2 separate regions of the Homo sapiens genome follow, and region 1 is linked to region 2. The links come from fine-mapping of genetic effects on gene expression. Tissue or cell type: whole blood. Region 2 holds a variant in brackets; the other region holds the start of a gene. Each region is shown on its reference strand, or each on the opposite one.

Evidence for each region.
Region 1: it holds the start of LAG3, and the variant in region 2 is fine-mapped to the expression of LAG3 in whole blood (TOPMed, PIP 0.98).

Annotation. Positions count from the first base shown.
Region 1 is chr12:6,771,428-6,773,927 of GRCh38, forward strand. It overlaps LAG3 (lymphocyte activating 3), which reads left to right and starts at 1,093. Exons shown (of 8, transcript NM_002286.6): 1 at 1,093-1,483; 2 at 1,765-1,912; 3 at 2,270-2,500. The coding sequence starts at 1,426. RefSeq lists a silencer at 2,353-2,500.
Region 2 is chr5:132,460,433-132,463,448 of GRCh38, forward strand. All of the region lies in intron 3 of CARINH (colitis associated IRF1 antisense regulator of intestinal homeostasis), which reads left to right. Among named protein-coding and RNA genes, the nearest start is that of IRF1, 29 kb to the right of the region's middle. The variant T/C (reference allele first, on the strand shown) is at 1,454.

The DNA.
Region 1 (2,500 bases), not on the chromosome of region 2:
AGGGAAATCCTGGGTCTCGTGTCATCCCCAGGTCGGCTGTATGTTTCGTCACCTGCCCTCCAACTCTCCCTGGGCTGGGCTGGGGAGCGGGAGTTGTATGACTCTTGTCAGTCTTGGGCCTTCCCTAGTCCCACTGCCTCTGTTTCCCCTGAGTTTGATCTCTGTTAGGAGATTTCTAAGATTTCTGCATTTCTCCATCTCCGCATGGCCCTTGCCTTCTCCTCTTAGTTCGGAACCTCTGGACTGGAGGATGCTTCTGAGGGCATGGGGACCTGAGTTGGAGTGGGGAGGGGTGTTGACTCATCAACAGCATCATTTCTCCCAGGAGACGCCCGTAACTCATCCAAGGTCAGGACTACACACTGTCACGCACACAGGTACACTCACAGCTTTTATCTTCACGCTCCCTAACCTTGGCAAATTGTACAATTTCTTTGAAGCTCAGTTTCCTCATCTGTACAATGGGGAAAAGCATTAGATTTCATGAATTACTATAAGTAAAGTGTCCAATACAGTGCTTAGCACGTAATGAAGCCTCAATACAATGTAGTTATTCTCCATGCCCCACAAAGCTGGCATGCCTAGCCTCAGACCTACCATTTTTTGGGGTGCAGTAAGGCTTCCTGTCCACCATGTTCCCAGGGACATTGTACTGATGGGTGGAAAGGCAGGTCTAAAGGGGTCACGAAGTTCTGGGAGGTTAAGGGAACGAGGAAGGAGATTGAGCAACAAGGAAAGAGCTTGCCAAGAAGGAGGTGTGAATATTGGGACTGAGGAGGCAGCTTAGAGATGGGCAAGGGGGCAGTTCCAGGCAGAAATGGTTCGTGGAGGCAGAAGGTCCCTGGGAGAGGGAGCAGTCTGGAGGGTGGGGCAGGGGCGAGGAGGGGGAGGTGGGGAGACCCAGGACTGAGGAAGTAAACAAGGGGAGCGCCACCACAGAGGTGGAGAGGTGGAGGGTGCTGCTGCTGGGAATCAACCCCCTCAGACTTTCCACTGCGAAGCGAAACCGTAAGCCCTGGGGTGCGGGGGGCGGGCCGGGAGGAGGGGAAGTGGGGAAGGTGGAGGGAAGGCCGGGCACAGGGGTGAAGGCCCAGAGACCAGCAGAACGGCATCCCAGCCACGACGGCCACTTTGCTCTGTCTGCTCTCCGCCACGGCCCTGCTCTGTTCCCTGGGACACCCCCGCCCCCACCTCCTCAGGCTGCCTGATCTGCCCAGCTTTCCAGCTTTCCTCTGGATTCCGGCCTCTGGTCATCCCTCCCCACCCTCTCTCCAAGGCCCTCTCCTGGTCTCCCTTCTTCTAGAACCCCTTCCTCCACCTCCCTCTCTGCAGAACTTCTCCTTTACCCCCCACCCCCCACCACTGCCCCCTTTCCTTTTCTGACCTCCTTTTGGAGGGCTCAGCGCTGCCCAGACCATAGGAGAGATGTGGGAGGCTCAGTTCCTGGGCTTGCTGTTTCTGCAGCCGCTTTGGGTGGCTCCAGGTAAAACGGGGATGGCGGGAGGGTTGACCTCCAGCCCCACAGGAGGGGACCAGCAGGGATCTCTGTGGCCACAAAGGTCCTGAGGTCCTTAGCTCTGTGGATTCTTCTAATCCCTTTTTTGGGCAGTCCTTCCACCCCGAAAGCCTCTCTGGGCAGAGAAGAAACAGAAACCCAAGTTCTTCCTGCACCCTGTTTCTCCCTCGGGAAACACCCAGGCTCCTTCTCTACCCCTGCCTCTCGGCTCACGCCCCCTCCCCTTGGCCTCTCTTTTGCTCACCTAGTGAAGCCTCTCCAGCCAGGGGCTGAGGTCCCGGTGGTGTGGGCCCAGGAGGGGGCTCCTGCCCAGCTCCCCTGCAGCCCCACAATCCCCCTCCAGGATCTCAGCCTTCTGCGAAGAGCAGGGGTCACTTGGCAGCATCAGCCAGACAGGTATGCACCCCAAACTTGGGCAACAGGACCTCCGAATCCAGCACTCAACCCCACACCCGTGCCGGTCCTCTGTCCCCTGCCCTGAGGTGTCACTCCCTCTGAAGCCAGTGACCCAGTCTCCCTGCCCTCGCTTGCACCGTTCCTGCCCTTGCTCTGCAATCAGCGACCCTCACGCCAGCATCCCTTCTCTCCAGAAGTGGATGCGGCCAGTCCAACAGAGGGGTCGGGCGTGAGGGGACGGTTGGTGGTCAAGAGAACTCTTGGGGCGGGCTTTCTCATCCTCAACGGGTGGCTGCCTGCATCCTCCCGGGCTTCCTACCCCTGGAGCTTCTCAACTCCATTCTCTTTCCCGCCCAGTGGCCCGCCCGCTGCCGCCCCCGGCCATCCCCTGGCCCCCGGCCCTCACCCGGCGGCGCCCTCCTCCTGGGGGCCCAGGCCCCGCCGCTACACGGTGCTGAGCGTGGGTCCCGGAGGCCTGCGCAGCGGGAGGCTGCCCCTGCAGCCCCGCGTCCAGCTGGATGAGCGCGGCCGGCAGCGCGGGGACTTCTCGCTATGGCTGCGCCCAGCCCGGCGCGCGGACGCCGGCGA
Region 2 (3,016 bases):
TCTTTTTCACACTGGCCATCTGAGTCTCATAAGGAGACTCCTCTCCTTCCACTGAGCCTGCATCCCAGCCTCTCCCCTTTCTTCAGGGACCTCTCCCCAGCAATTACGCCCTTCCATTCTCTCAACCAGGGAATCTTCAAACTCTTCTTCTCCACTGGCTCCTGCTGTGCTCCTGTCTCCATCACCTGTATAATGCTTCCTGCCATCCTGCCTTCCCCGTGGAGTACAGCCATGCTGTCTGCTGCTTACAGCCAAGATTCTGGAAAGAAATGTCTCCTTTTTCCTCGTCATCAACCACTCATTTATTCAGCAAGTGTTTCTTTTACACTTGCCTGTGCTGGGCATGGCAGCAATGCAGCAGTGAACAAAACCATCAGCCCTGCTCTCATGCAGCTTATAATCAAGTAGAGAGACAGACATAAATGATTAATAGATGCTCCTGTAATGGTGGTTGTGAGGTGTGCTGCCACAGCCCAGCCACACACGCCAGTTCCCTTCTCTGCACATGTACATGTCTGCTCATCCTTCCCACCTGAACTCATGTGCCACCTCACTTATGCCCCTTCCCAATGCCGCACCCACACAACAGGGTGTCCCTCTGTGCCCACAGCAGCCCTTGGGTATAACTGTTCCCCACAGAGGCTGAACCCCAAGGGCAGAGTCCAGGCCACACTCACCACGGAGACCCCTGCCTGGCACAGAGCCCAGCCCAGCAGAGATGCTCAGAAGATGAATGAAAGTCCCTGCTGAGATTGATCCAATCTGTTTGTGAACATCTCTGGGGTCCAAGAATTCACGGCTTTCTTTTTCTTTAGAGAGCCTTTTGTTTCTTTTTGCCATTATATACTATATTTGGGTTAGGGCACAACAATGTGAATATACTTAATACTGAACTCTACACTTGAAAATGGTTAAGATGGTAAAGTTTTAAGTTATATGTATTTTGCCACAATTTTTTAAAATGCAGAGCATAGGTACAAAGAAGGAAAAAAAGGGGGCAAGGTCCATTTTATTGAGAAATAAAGAACAAAGGGTTCAATTCAGAGAGGATTGGATTTTAAAACGTAATTTAGATTAGGGAAATGCAAATGAAAACCATAATAAGTAAGATACCACTTCACATCTGTTAGGATGGCTATTTTAAAACAACAAAAACAACCTGAAAATAAGTGTTGGCAAGGATGTGAAGAAATAGATACCCTTGTGCATTGCTATTGGGAACGTAAAATCATGCAGCCTTTGTTGAAAACAATGTGGTGGTTCCTCAAAAACTTAGTTATCATATGATCCCGCAGTTCCACTTCTAGGAATATACCCAAAAGAATTGAAAGCAGGGACTCAAAGTGATATTTGTACACCAGTGTTTGTAGCAGTATTATTCACAATAGCCAAAAGGTGGAAACAACCCAGATGTCCATGACAAGAGGAGTGGATAAACAAAATATGGTGAATA[T/C]GTACAATGGAACATAATTCAGCTTTAAAAAGGAATGAAATTCTGGTACATGTTATAACATAGATGAACCTTAAAAACATTATGCTAAGTGAAATAAGCCAGACACAGAAGGAAAAATACCAGATGATCCCACTTATATGAGGTACCTAGAATAGTGAAATTCATAGAGACAGAAAGTAGAAGGATGGTTGCCAGGGGCTGGAAGGAGGAAGAACAGGGAGATACTGCTTAGTGGATGCAGAGTTTATGTTGAGGGTGATGAAAAAGTTCTGGAGATGGATGGTGGTGATGGCTGCACAACAGTGAGAATGTACTTCATACTATGGAACTCTGCACTTAAAAATGGTTAAAATGGATGTAGACATTTTATGTCTATTTTGCCATAACAAGAAAGTAATTTGGGTGTATTTTAGAGATTTTAGAAAATACTGTAAGCACAAGAGGAAAAAAATTAAAATCATTCGCAATCACCAGGTAGAGACAACGACTGTTGAAAGATCAGTGTGTATCTTTTCATTCTCGTTCTCTCTCTCAAAAAAGTGTGTGTGTGTGTGTGTGTGTGTCTTCAGATGTCACACTGGACTTTCAGGAAAGGTTCCCCTCTCTGCTGCTTCCCTGCTGGAGCCATGGAGAGCAAGTCTATCCCTGTTCCATAGGTCAATCCTTTGAATGATTTCTCATGGCTGAGTTCACTCCCCTGCACCTCCAGGGTTGCACTTCTCTGAAAATACTCATTTATTTTATGTGTCTACTAAAAACATGGCACCCACGACCCAATAATATGTTGGAAGGGGTTGGAGAGAGAAACGCGAGTACCTCTCACACCTTCTCACACACTACACATCTTAGCGATGGCCGAGTGAGCATGTTGGCTCTCTGGACTCCTCAGTCTGTTGGTCTGGGCTGCGCCAGGCTCAGGCTCCCTGCCTCCCCCCCAACCTTGATCCCCTTGCTTCTTGAACCTGATGCTGGGCCTCACATTCTCCGTTGATTCTAGCTCTTAAATCCTGCTTCTCCAGCTTGTCAGGAGGCTGTGCCCTCACACCCCAAAGAGCAGATCTGCCCTCTCCACTGAGAGGGAAGGAGTGAAGGTCCCACAGCCTCTGACCCCTGCTGGGCCCAAGAGAGGAACAGCTGCTTGCTTTATTTCTCGTGGGAGAAGTGTGTCTCCTCTTTGTCTCAGGCACCCCTCTGCCCTGTACAGCAGCAAGTCAGCAGGAATGAGCTGAGCCGCCCAAGTAGTGGCTCCCTCCACTATGGGGGCTCTGTGGTCCTGGGGGCTGTCCTGCCTCCACTGCCATAGGCCTGGCCCCAGAGCATGCTGCAGTGGTCACAACCTGTGGAGGTGCCCCCAGACCCCCATATTTGGGCCCAACTACAGCCTCCTTCCCCAGCTTTGCCACCTGGCTTGGGAGCCAGGGCACCACCAGCTTCACTGGCAGGGAGAGATGAAGAAAGAGGCCATAGCCACGCAAGTGACTGAAGTTCATGTTCGTGCACACCAATTAGAGAGGGACAGCACGTTCATTTACCTCCAAATCCAGCCACAGACACATCGCCCTT